Homo sapiens: one gene and its partner. The protein of the gene in region 1 purifies or fractionates together with the protein of each later gene. This does not show direct contact. Each region holds a gene or a part of one and is shown on either strand. Other genes may lie near its edges.

The links. The genes of interacting proteins can lie anywhere in the genome.
Region 2: the proteins of KAT14 (region 1) and ZZZ3 purify together in Homo sapiens (affinity purification with mass spectrometry; 4 studies listed by BioGRID and IntAct, with this or other methods). This does not show direct contact.

What each region holds. Positions count from the first base shown.
Region 1 is NC_000020.11:18,154,854-18,161,885, forward strand, and holds part of KAT14 (cysteine-rich protein 2-binding protein), read left to right. Parts: intron 1-4,230; coding exon 4,231-4,412; intron 4,413-6,966; coding exon of another isoform or gene 6,967-6,969; coding exon 6,970-7,032. UniProt on the Homo sapiens protein: Component of the ATAC complex, a complex with histone acetyltransferase activity on histones H3 and H4. May function as a scaffold for the ATAC complex to promote ATAC complex stability. Has also weak histone acetyltransferase activity toward histone H4.
Region 2 is NC_000001.11:77,574,627-77,581,658, reverse strand, and holds part of ZZZ3 (ZZ-type zinc finger-containing protein 3), read left to right. Parts: intron 1-589; coding exon 590-661; intron 662-2,030; coding exon 2,031-2,132; intron 2,133-2,789; coding exon 2,790-2,885; intron 2,886-5,438; coding exon 5,439-5,591; intron 5,592-7,032.

The sequences.
Region 1 (7,032 bases):
GAAAATATTCAAGCTATTCTTCACTAATCAAAACTATACCTTCTGGAAGAATTCAAGGCCAGGACTGTAAAAGCAGATTAAATGAACAAATACTAGGCAATTATTCAGTAATAACTAAGTTTTCATATACTTTTTAACTTGTTTCTACAATGGTACATAAAATTATTTAGGTTAGCACACCCCACCATGCACGACTAATTTTTGTATTTTTCGTAGGGACAGGGTTTCACCTTATTGGTCAGGCTGGTCTTGAACTCCTGACCTCAGGTGATCCACCCGCCTGGCCTCCCAAAATGCTGAGATTATAGGCGTGAACCACTGCACCTGGCCAGGACATACTTTAAATTCTTAAAAATTGTAACCATTTCTCATTTGTCACAAGATCTAAGAGAATGCTATACAGTGTAATGAAGTTCTGAATTTTCTTTCAGATGTTTACAGGTTTTTCTTTTATGCCTTTAATATGTTATTAAAGTTTAAATGTAAAAAGGTGGGGGTTTTTTTGGTGCTACCCATCCCCCTTCTCCAGCCACTAGGAAGAAAGCTGTGTGTGTGTTCCTGGAGTGGCTTACACACAGCTTGTAGCATCCAGGGTGGGCAAAAATAAGCCTGTTTTCCAAATACTGGGTATTTGTGCTCTGATCACTGATTGCTGCTTCTAATCATAGAGGTGAAAAGAGATGGCAGCCATTGTTGTTATAGCTCCCCTCATTGCAAAAATGGGTAAAGGCATTTAATAGACACTTCTTCAAAGATATTAAAATGGCCAATAAGCACATCAAAAGATGCTCAGCATCACTAATCATTAGGGAAATGCAAATCAAATCTATAACACGATACCACCTCATGCCTCTTAGGATGACAATTATCAAAGAAACAAAACAACAACTGTGGGCGAGAATGTGGAGAAATGGGAACCCTTTTGCAGTGTTGGTGGGAATGTAAAATTGTACAATCGTTGTGGAAAATGGTGTGGTGTTTCCTCAAATAGTTAAAAATATAATGATCATATGATCTGGCAATTTCACTTCTGGGTATATACTCAAAAGGACTGAAAGCAGGGTCTCAGAGATACTTGTATATCCATGTTTTTAGCAGCATTATTCACAATAACTGAGATGTGGAAGCAACCAAAGTGTCCATCAGTAGATGAATGGATAAGCAAAATGTGGCATATACATACAGTGGATATCATTCAGTCTTAAAAAGGAAGGACATTCTGGCACATGCTGCAGTGTAGATGAACCTTGAGGACATTATGCTGTGTGAAACAAACCAATCACAAGAAAACAAACACTGTGTGATTCCACTTATCTGAGATACTTAGGGTAGTGAAAATCACAGATACAGAACGTAGAATGGTGGTTGTCAGCACTTGGCGGGGAGGGTGGAATTGGGAGTTGTTTAACGGATATAGAGTTTCGGTTTTGCCCTGTGAAAAGTGTTCTGAAAGTGGATGGTGGTGGTGATTGTACCATATAAATGTACTTAATACCACTGAACTATACTGTTAAAAATTGTTCAGATAGTAAATGTTATGTATATTTTACCACAATAATAATTTTGGGGGAAAACTATTGAGGCCATTCATAAATACTGTGTTTGTATATGTCCTGGCAACAAATTTATTCCATTCCATACAAATGTCTCATTATGTGTTGTGCTGTGATTTAGCTGGCTATATTAGTTTGCTAATGATGCTGTAACACAAACTGGATGGCTTAAACAACAGAAATGTATTCTAGTTCTAGAGGCTGGAAATCTGAAATCCAGGTGTTGATAGGATTGGTTCCTTTTGAAGGCTGTGAGGGAGAGAGTATTTTATGCCTCTCCCCTAGCTTCTGTTAGCCACAGGCCTTCCTTGGCTTGTAGATGACGTTCTCCCTGTGTCTTCATGCATCTTCCCTCTCTACACGTCTGTCTCTGTGTCCAAGTTTCCCCTTTGTGTAAGGACACCAGTCATATTGGATTAGTGTTCAACTTAATGACCTCATGATCACTGTTTGCACATAAGGTCACATTCACAAGTACTGGGACTTCCAACATCTTTTGGGAGGATACGATGAAATCTGTAACACTGGCCGATAATTTTATAAACATTTATGTTATTTCCAGTTTTTCTGTGTTTAAGTTAGCCTTGTGGGGCATATTCTTGTATATATATCCTTTGTGTTTTTGTGATTAGAAGTAGATTTGCGAGGTCAGAGGATACACACAATTTTGCTGTACATTATGAAAGTAACCTCCAGAAAGTATATGCCCATTTATAGTCCCACTGTCAATGTACAAGTACGCACCCGTTTTCGACACAGTAAATAACACATTGGTTTTTAAAATCTTTTGAGTCTTTGTCAGTCTTTTTTATTGTTTTTGTTTGTTTGAGATAGGGTTTCACCCTGTCACCCAGGCTGGAGTGCAATGGCACAGTAATGGCTCACTGCAGCCACTACCTCCCAGGCACAAGTGATCCTCCCACCTCAACCTCCCAAGTAGCTGGGACCACAGGCACGTGCCATCACACCCAGCTAATTTTTTTATTTTTATTTTTTTGTAAAAATGAGGTCTCACTATGTTGCCCAGACTTCTGTTTGTTTATTGCAGTAAAAACAGTGAAAATTTACCATCTTAACCAGTTCCAAGTGTACAGTTCAGTGGTGTTAAGTATGTTCACGTATTTGAATATAGATTCACAGATGGCCAGAACTCTTCTCAGCTTGCAGATCTGAAACTCTATCCCTATTAAATAACTCTCCATTCTCCCCTCCCCACAGCTCTAGGCAGTCACCATTCTACTTTCTGTGTCTATGAATTTGACTACTCTAAATACTTCATATATGTAGAACCATACAGTATTTGTCTTTTTGGGACTGGCTTATTTCACTTAGCATAAGTGTCCTCAAGGGTTATCCACATTGCAGTATGTGATAGGATTTCCTTTATTTTTAAGACTGAATAATATTCTATTGTATGTGTTTATGCTACATTTTGTATTTATTAGAGAGGATTTGGAAAGATTAGAAAAAGATAAGAATGTAGGAGAGGTACTTTGGAACCAAAAGCTTGGGGGTTTCATTCTCTCCATCTCAGATAGTGCTTTTTTTGAGACCCAGTTTCATTCTTGTTGCCCGGGCTGGAGTGCAATGGTGCAGTCTTGGCTCACTGCAGCCTCCGCCTCTCGGGTTCAAAGATTCTCCTGCCTCACCCTCCCGAGTAGCTGGGATTACAGGCATGTGCCACCACACCCAGCTAATTTTGTATTTTTAGTAGAGACGGGGTTTCACCCTGTCAGCCAAACTGGTCTCGAACTCCTGACCTCAGGTGATCCACCCGCCTCGGCCTCCCAAAGTGCTGGAATTACAGGCGTGAGCCACCGCACCCAGCCTCAGATAGTGCTTATGCCTACTATAGCTGAGCTTATTTGTTTTGTTTATTTTCTGAGTTTTCTATTAATATTACGTCTCTGTTCCTCAGAATGGTTTTCCTTTGCCTTCCCAGCAATACCTTCCAACTGTTAGACTGGTCTTCTTGTGAAAGACTGTCTTCTAGGATTTCCGGGGATTGATGTATCTTTTCAAGGTGGAAATAGAACAGTCGCCTTGAAAGAATTTCCGTTAGGGAACCCGGATAGTTGGCATTTTGCATGTTTTGTTATTTTGTTGTGCAGTAGGTGCTCTCTGTGTTTGTGGAGTATACCACATAGTTTTGTTACCACTCTAGTGCATCGAGGCAGATAGGATCAGATTGAGAGATGTGTGCTACTCCTCGGGTAAAATGAGGTATTTACTGGAGCCAGTTAACTTCTATCACAAAATGCCCAGCCTTGGAGTTACACTTTTTGTATGCTTTATTCTTGGGAGCTGTGCTTAATTCACATAACAAAGCAACTTAATTAAAATTAGCCTGTAGAATTCCATAATCGTGATGATTGTGATGAGAAGTATTTCACGTGCTTTGTTTGAATTATTGCATTTAATCCTCACAGCAACCCTGTGAGGTAAGTTCTATTATCCTGATTTTACAGATGAACAAACCGAGGCTGCTAGAAGTTGGTAGCGCCAGGGTTTGAAGCAGGCGAACTCCAGAGCCTCTCTCCTGCCTCTCGTGCTCTGCTCCTTCAGTAGCTGGAGGTGCCATTGCATGTTGCAGGCCAGGAGTCACAGTATACACAGACTGTCTTTTCTGTATAATGAGCAAAAGTGCCAATCATTTTTAAATTCTTGGACTCTTTAGGAAAAAGACGTCTACCTGGTGGAGCACCGTGGCAGGTTGCCTCAGCGTGGGAAGTCCCATGTACTTCCGTTCAGGTGCTCAGGAATTTGGAGAGCCAGGATGGTGGAAACTTGTTCATAACAAGCCCCCAACGATGAAACCTGAAGGAGAGAAGTTGTCTGCCTCTACTTTGAAAATAAAAGGTACTGTTGTGAGAACAGTACAAAAGTTGCTAGTCAGACCAGAGCCAAGCAGGTGTGAGCCCAGGAGACGCTCCTGCTTCCACTGGGCATGGCTCGCAGGCCTCTCTGGAGCTACTCTGTTTAACACTTCTGTGATGACACTTGTGTGTGTGCTAGAAATAAATGCCACATAAAAACATTTTATCACTTCCTAATCAAGCTATCAGTTTTATAAATTTCCCAGGGTATCTGAAAGGTTCAATGTTTTCCATCTGGTTTTTGTTTTTAAACTTCTCACAAAGGTGAAGAGATATTTTAAAATTCCCGTAATAAATAACATGATGAATTCCCATGTACCTTCCACCTCACTTTGACATTAACTCCTGACAGTCTCATTTTATCTAAATCCTCAGTACTTTTCCCCAACCTTCCCCATTCTTACAATTGGATTATTTAGAAACAAATCCCAGGAATCAACATTTCATTCCTAAATATCTTAGTATGTATCTCTAAGAGATCAGGATTCTTTCCTTTTTGCAGCCTGACCATAATGCCATTTTCATATTTAAAAAGATGTTAACAGTGACTTCTTACTATCACATATTGATCTGGTTTTATAATCTAAAAAGCTTTTAATGAGCTTTTAAATTTTTATATTTATTTGTTTGCTTGTTTGTTTATTTATTTGAGGTACAGTCTCGCTTTGTTGCCCAGGCTGGAGTGCAGTGGTGCAATCTTTGCTCACTGCAACCTCTGCCTCCTAGGTTCAAATGATTCTCGTGCCTCAGCCTCCCAAATAACATGCCACCATGCCCAGCTAATATTTTTGTATTTTTATTACAGACGGGGTTTTGCCATGTTGGCCAGGCTGATCTCGAACTCCTGACCTCAGGCGATCCACCTGCCTTGGCCTCACAAAGTGCTGGGATTACAGGGTGAGCCACCGGATCAGGCTGATGAGCTTTTAAAATTTTAAAAATATGATTGGGAAGAAAATCAAATAGTACTTAAGGGTGTAAAGTATGAAAGTTCCCCCACCTGCCTATGGCCTGCAATTTCACTTCCCAGAGTAACCACTGTTGTCTTTTGTGAATACTTTCAGAAAGATCTCTGCAGATTTAAGCATTTTCTTAGTTTTTTAAAAAAGTAAAATGGACTCGTACTATTATGAGTTTTCCATTTTTGCCACACTTACCAGTATGTCTTGGACATCTTTCCATGACAGTACATGTAGATTTACCCTATTTTATTTCATTACATCCATTATATAATTATGTGATAATTTGTTAAACCATTCTCCTGTTGATGGACATTTTGGTTGTTTCTACCTTTTTGTTGCTATTTTATTTATTTATTTTTTAATTAAAACATTTTTAAAAAGTAATAGAGATAGGGTCTCGCCATGTTTCCTGGGCTGGTCTTGAACTGTTGGGCTCAAGTGATCCTCCAGCCTCTCCTTCCAAAAGTGCTGGGATTACAGGCATGAGCCATCATGCCTGACCTTTTGTTACTTTAAACAGTGCTACAATTCTACAAATTTGTGTACATGTGAAAATGTGATAAATTCCTGGAGTTTCTACATCAAAGGGCATATTCATTCAAAATTTTAATCAGGATTGCCAAATTATCCTCCAAGAAACTGTAATAAGGCCGGGCATGGTGGCTCATGCCTGTAATCCCAGTACTTTGGGAGGCCGAGACAGGTGGATCATCTGAGGTCAGGAGTTCGAGACCAGCCTGGCCAACATGATGAAACCCCATCTGTACAAAAATACAAAAATCAGCCGGGCGTGATGGCGCATGCCTGTAATCCCAGCTTCTCTGGAGGCTGAGGCAGGAGAATTGCTTGAACCCGGGAGGCGGAGGTTGCAGTGAGCCGAGATCACACCACTAACATTCCAGCCTGGGTGACAGAGCAAGACCCTGTCTCAAAAAAAAAAAAAAGTACCCATTGAAATGCCCATGAAAATGCCCATTTCCCCATACATTTACTGAGCTTTATCAAACTTTTTTTTTGGCTCACTGCAGCCACCACCTCCCAGGCTCAAAATCCACCCACCTCAGCCTCCCAAAGTTCTGGGATTAAGAGGCGTGCACCACCACGCCTGGCTAAACTTTTAATGTTTGCCAGTTCCAGTAGGTGAAAGATAGTATTTATTTGTTTAAATTTGCAGTATAACTTCTTTTTTCTCAAGAGATATCTAAGTCTTTTTTAGTTTAGGGCATTCATTGAACATTTCTCTTTATTGAACATGATATTACTCATAATAATAAATTAGCAAAAGAAACTAAAGTTGAGTAGTTATTTTAAAATTTAGATATGGGTTGAGCAATCCAAATCTGAAAATCCAAAATCAAAAACACTCCAAAATCTGAAACTTTTTCAGCACTGACATAACGCTCAAAGGAAATGCTCATTTGCAGCATTTCGGATTTTGTATTTCTGGGTTTGGGATACTCAGCCAATAAGTAAAATGCAAATATTCCAAAAGCCGAAAACATCTGAAATCCAAAACATGCTTGTGCCCAAGCATTTCAGATGAGGGATACTCAGCCTGTATTTATTCTTTCTTAGCAGCCTCAAAACCAACTTTAGATCCCATCATTACTGTTGAGGGACTTAGAAAACGAGCAAGTCGGA
Region 2 (7,032 bases), on another chromosome or scaffold:
AAGAACTTTGAAATTAAGAGAAACTTAGGTTGGAGTCCTAACTTACTAGCCGTGAACCTTCAGACATCATTTACGTTGAAGTCTCTAAGCTGCAGTTTCCTTTTGTATAAAATGTAGTTGATATTACCTATCTTGTAGGGTTGTTGGTGAGGGTTAAATAGGTAGTATATGCAATGTGCCTAGTACAGTATCCGACACATAGTATTTACTCTAAAAATAGTAGTTCCTTTGTGTGTAGTGAAATGTGACCAGGATTTGAGTCCTGGCCTTGCCACTCTTAGTTAGATGAACCTCAGTGGACATGTTACTTTTCAATTCTGAGCCCACATTTCCTTTCCCTTTTTTAAAAAATGAAGTTACAGTACTATTATGTATTTCACAGGATTGCTGAGAGTATAAAACCAAACAAAATAAAATAATGTGAAGGCATTTTGTAAACAGTTAAAAAAAAAGCATATACATTAAAAAACAAATTTACTCAAATATTTTGAAATTAATTTAAAAATTCCACAATTTGCGTGTTATTTGGCTATATCAAAGGATAGGTGTTGTTATTTTCTCTCTGACAAAAGCCTTGTCTTATGTGCAGATGATAAGAGGACGCTTGTGTGATGATACCAAACCTGAAACATTTAACCAGTTGTGGACTGTTGAAGAACAGGTAATAAATATTTCAAAATCGTGTAGGCTTAAAAAAACAAGTAAACAGTTAACATCAGAGTCAGTATTATGAGGCCAGGTCCAGTGGCTCACGCCTGTAATCCCAGCACTTTGGGAGGCTGATATGGGTGGATCACTTGAAGTCAGGAGTTCAAGACCAACCTGGCCAACATGGTGAAACCCTACTAAAAATACAAAAATTAGCCGGGTGTGATGGCGTGTGCATATATAATCCCAGCTACTCGGGAGGCTGAGGCAGGAGAATTGCTTGAACCCAGGAGGCAGAGGTTGCATTGAGCCAGGATCATGCCACTGCACTCCAGGCTGGGCAACAGAGTGAGACTCCATCTCAAAAAGAAAAGAGCCTGTATTTTGAGTCAGGTGTATATTGTTGTATGTGATGCCTGTTAGCCATGAGTTTTAAATATTTAGGCTTATTTTTGTATACCTTTTTGCATACGTCAAGAATTTTGGATTTTGAGAATGTGTAAACTTTTGTTTGGGGATAATTTTAAAAGAAGGAACCTGGGTTTTGAGAGGGGAGTAGAAGTGGATAGAATAAAATAGATGTTTTTGTAATGTAGCTTTGGGAGAGAGAAAAACCTGAGGCCAGTAAAGCTGAGCTTCAAAGTGCATTCTTATTTTTGTTGTCGAAGGGAGGTGAGGAAGTCAAGTCAGTTTTGGCATACAGTTTAGAATTGTTTTTTGGCTAATGGCTAGGGTTGTTAGTGGGTGAAGTTTGAGGCACATCTTTGTCTCATATGGCTATTAACCCCACAGCTATACATTTAACAGTTTATAAAAAGCTTTGGGAAATCTATTTATTTCAAGCATCCAGATTTTTCTGCATCTTTAGGACTATGAGAAGATACAGGAGACAAGAAGGAATATTAAAATCAAATATTTGAATAAAGGACCATACAAAAGAAGGAAAAGCCTCTTTTAATAGTCGAAATTTAAGTGAATTTACACGTTTTTGTTAAAACTGTAGGGGAAAGAAAAGTAAGAAAAGATTGACCATCTTTTCTTGGATTTCAGTGGATTTAGTGATTTCAGTGGAAATCACTAAAATGTGTAATCTACCAATTTGTTTACTTATTTTCTGTTTTCTTATGAGATATTTTTACTTATGTGAATAGAAAACTTTTCTAAGCTCTTTCATAAGTTTATTCTCTAATTTCATTGTTCCCTGTGAAGTCTTAAGTTTCTAACTAGAAATTTTTCCTACCATGAGGATTTCTAATTACGTAACCCCCAAAGGTGGGAGAGAGTATTACATTTTGAAATGAAATGTGAATGTATTTATTTAGAAATCCAATATTTAAAATTAAATACATATTTTCTTAAATTTGGTCTTGGGTATGGCTTAGAAAAAGCTGGAACAGCTACTCATCAAATACCCTCCTGAAGAAGTAGAATCTCGACGCTGGCAGAAGATAGCAGATGAATTGGGCAACAGGACAGCAAAACAGGTAATTGAGGAGATGACTGCAGATTGCTGGTATGCTTTTGGTAGTTTTTTAATAAAGGAGAATAATGCAGCTGACATTGGGCGATCTGCCATAACACTTTCAGCTACAGAGTGCTGTAGTATGTGGTGTTTTTTTAAAAAAATTGTATATATTTTCGTTGATTTCAGAAACAACTTGAGATACTTCTGCTTTGGATCATTACGAAATATTAAAAAATGAACATATAATGGACTTAATTTCTCTTGAATGCTTACTAAATATACTAATTGTATACTTTTTGGTTATACTGAGCAAACAGATTTGTTTCATTGCCTTAGTGTTTCCTGGTTGTCTTTCTAAAAATGTATCTTGCAGTTTACTCCTTCATATTCCCATCTATATTAATAGATGTGTTTTTATACTACAAATGTAAGTGTTCACAAGTTGAAATATGTGTTTAGCTTTAGAATCAAATTTAAATTTACTTGAATAATTTTTGTTTGGCCTAGATTTTAAAATATATGTGTATTTGGTGGCAGTTTATTGTTAATTCTAGATTCATGATGAGTATTGAATTCTTAGCATTCATTAGATACTCATGTACGTTTTAATTTTTAAAAACGACTCAGGTATTGTATGTCATCTCATTGTGTTAAGAGACTTGTCATGTTTCCTTAGGTTGCCAGCCGAGTACAGAAGTATTTCATAAAGCTAACTAAAGCTGGCATTCCAGTACCAGGCAGAACACCAAACTTATATATATACTCCAAAAAGGTAAAAGAAAATACATGAAAGTAAACTGTAGATTAAATTTATTAAAGTAAGAATTGCTATGTAAAAATCTACACATTTGACAGAATAGTGTTGTATTTTAAAACTTCTGTTCATTCTAAGCATTTCCTTATATTGTGCAAAAGTGGAGGGTAAGGACTCCATTATTGCTGCTCAGTGAAATTCATGATTCTTCATTATTTTCTTTGGAGTAATGTGAATGAGTGCTACTTGAAAGATTTTAGATTCAAAATATGTTAGAAAGGCCTTTGTGAGGGTAAAGTTTTTAGGATATTTGATTATTTAATAAATCAATCATTTAATAAATTTAATAGATCAATTTCTGTTTTGTAGATAATGCTACATAAATCCAAGAATAGAAAGGTTTATTATGATATTCTAAAGCCAGGCACAGTGGTGTGCACCTGTTGTCCCAGCTACTTGGGAGGCTGAGGCACGAGGAACACTTGAGGCCAGGAGTTTGAGTCCAACTTAGGCAACATAGTGAGGTCCCGTATCTTTAAAAAAATAAAATATTGTATTTAATCCTTTCTACAATTCTTGAAATATAAGTAGTCTTATCATCTTCACTTTACTGACATAATATTAATAGCTAGCTGTTATATTGAGGGCTCTGAGCCAGACTCTACTGTTCTATAACCTTTTATTTGGTAAGGAAACTGGGCCCTCAGGTATGTTGAGTGAATTATCTAGTTGCTTAGCTGCTAAGTCTGGGAACCACTGATTCTCTCCCATTCTGATGCCACACTTTTTCCACTTTTCTCTGTTGCTTTCTACAGTGGAGAAGCTACTGTTTCTTTCCCAAACAGGACACTACATTAAAATGTAGCCAGTTTCGGCCGGGCACGGTGGCTCACGCCTGTAATCCCAGCACTTTGGGAGGCCGAGGCGGGTGGATCACGAGGTCAGGAGTTCAAGACCAGCCTGGCCAATATGGTGAAACCCCGTCTCTACTAAGAATACAAAAATTAGCCGGGTGTGGTGGCACGCACCTGCAGTCCCAGCTGTTCGTTCTTGTAATCGCAAAAAATAAAGACACCTAATTGGCTGTTTTAAATTTTCTTAATAAGTTATCCTGTTACTTTTCCCTCCCCACCACTGACATCTTTCTCATAAAGAGAAGCTAAGAGTATATCTAGTGCTGTTATCCTTCCATACTGAAGCTATTTCATGTAATTTTACATTAAGAATATTGTCTATACAGTTTCATGTTTTACACATTAAAAAAAAATTTTTTTTAACCGAGCTTTGGAAGCTTGTTTTAATTTGCCAATTGTTTTAAATATTTTGGGTTTCCCACCAAATATAGCACAACCTGTGTAGATTTGTAGAGTTCATCCTATAACTGTGGAATATTGGAACCTTACATTAACCTGTGTTTAATGTAAGAGCTCTTATTTTCATGGTTAATTTCTAAGCTAATTTTATAGATGTAACCATGTTTTCATCATTAACACTGGATAATGATAACAAAAGGAATACTGGAGAACGTACATGTGTTTTTTTCCCTTAGGTGTACTGTATTTTGGCTGTGAAGATCTAGTACAGCTATATTTACAATGATTGCTTGCCATTGTTAGAGTTTAAATTTGGAAACAGGTGAAATGATGGTTCTTCATGTAGCTGAGGGTGTTCTTTGTGACTGTGCTATTGATCAAGACAGGCAGGCTGCATAGTGGTGGAAAGTGAGAATTTGGGCACCACATAGGCCTAGTTTATAATCCTGGTTCTACCACTATCTAGCTGCAACACACTGAACAAGAAACTTAACCTCCCTGTCCTCAGTTTTCTCATTTTTAAATTAGAGGTGATGATAACTACGTTATAGGAATGTTGTAAGGATTAAATGACATTGGCATAGAGCAAGCTTGTCCAACCCATGACCCACGTACCACATGTGGCCCACGACAGCTTTGAATGTGGCCCAACACAAATTGGTAAACTTTCTTAAAACATTACAAGAAATTTTTTTTTTGTTGTTTTTTTGTTTTTTTTTTTAGTGTGAGTGTATTTTATGTGTGGCCCAAGACAATTCTTCCAATGTAGCCCGGGGAAGCCAAAGATTGGACAACCCTGGCATAGAATAAGCAGTCAATCAATGTTAGATAAGTATTTTCAGATATTCATAATGTTATAGAAATTTTCCTTTTACTTTTTACTGGATAGTTTTATGTCTGGCATAGGCCACTTCATCCTGTCTGATCTTCTATAAGATGATCATAAGAATTCAGTGCAGCCAGCATTTGACTGCCAAGAGTATGATAAATGCTGGGGATACAAATATAAGCTAGATATTAAACATGTGGTCCATTTTACCGTTGTTGGGGTATTTCCCCTACATTTAAAAAAAATTTTTTAAAGCTAGTTATGCTTTAAAAACGCAGAAAACAGAAAAAGCAACAACATAAGAGTATGCTAAAGGATAGAGTGAAATTCTTCTGATAGACTTGTTGGAAGTAACATTTGTATTTTTATATTTTTGATTCTTGTAATGATTTTTCACTGAACCAATTAAAAATTTGTTTTCTTACTTAGTCTTCAACAAGCAGACGACAGCACCCTCTTAATAAGCATCTCTTTAAGCCTTCCACTTTCATGACTTCACATGAACCGCCAGTGTATATGGATGAAGATGATGACCGATCTTGTTTTCATAGCCACATGAACACTGCTGTTGAAGATGCATCAGTAAGTTATACACATCAAGTTGTTATATACATCAAGGTATAGAAGAGAGTAGGATTTTCTAATTATTTCCACTCTTCAGAGAATGTTGGTTTCTTTTAATGAACAAGTCAAATGTATAGTTTTTAAGTAATGTACTTTTGTGAGGAAAATTTCAAACATATACAAAAATAGAATAGTATAATGAACCTTAACAATTATCAACATGAAGCTACCTTATTTTAATCTCTACTCCCTACCCACCTCAACTCTGCTCTGGATTATTTTGGAGCAAGTCCCAGATATTACACAATATAATTATCATGTTTATAAAAGGTAATTTGTTATACAGTGAAATATATAGTCACTGTTCATGATTTTTTTTCTAATTTCTTCATTTGGGTTTGGATCCAAATAAAGCCCATAAATCACAATAGGTTCATTCTCCCTCTTTCACTTTCCTTTTTTCCCTCTCCCAATGTTTTTGTTGAAGAACTGGTTCATTTGTCTTATAGAATTTTGCAGTATGGATTTTATTGATTACATCTTCTTGTCATTTAATCTGTTCCTCTGTTTTCTGAACTTCCTGTAAATTCATAGTAGGTCAAGAGCATTGATGAGATTCAGATGTATTTGTTTGTTAGGGTGGGCAGGACTACTTCACGTTTACTTTCATCAGCCTGGTTGTCTCTTTTTTTGGCATAACAGCCACTGATCATTGACTAAATTGATTAATTCATTAGATGTTACAGAATAGTGATTATGCTATCATTTCTTCATTTACTTGCTGGACTATTCTAAAAGTAATCCCCCTGCCCCCTAGTCAACTATTTGGTTACTCTGAGGTACATATAGAAAAGGTGGGATAATTGCTCAATTCTCCCTTTTTTTTCTTTTTCTTTCTTTTTTAGGCAGAGTCTCGCTCTGTCGCCCAGGCAGGAGTGCAGTGGTGCAATCTCGGCTCACTGCAGCCTCTGCCTCCCAGGTTCAAGTGATTCTCCTGCCTCAGGCACCTGAGTAGCTGAGACTACAGGCATGTGCCACCATGCCCGGCTAGTTTTTGTATTTTCAGTAGAGGCGGGGGTTCACTATGTTGGCCAGGATATTCTCGATGTCCTGACCTCGTGATCTGCCTGCCTCGGCCTCCCAAAGTGCTGAGATTATAGGCGTGAGCCACCATGCCTGGCCTGTTTTCTGGTTTTTAAAATAATGAGTTCATTTTCTCATATCCTTCAAAGATGACCAATGAGGTTTAAAAATTTTTTGTATTCTTATGAACTATTGGCCCTAAATGTATTTAATGTATTTCAATTCATTGATGTTACTGCCTTTGTTAGTGTTCAAAGTGGCCCATCTTTGGTTTGTTGTAGCCTATTTAAGTTGGCTTATAAGTTCTTTTGATAAGACTCTAATAGTGTTTAATAGCTTAATACCCATTTTTAACAAGGAAAATCCAGGCTCATCT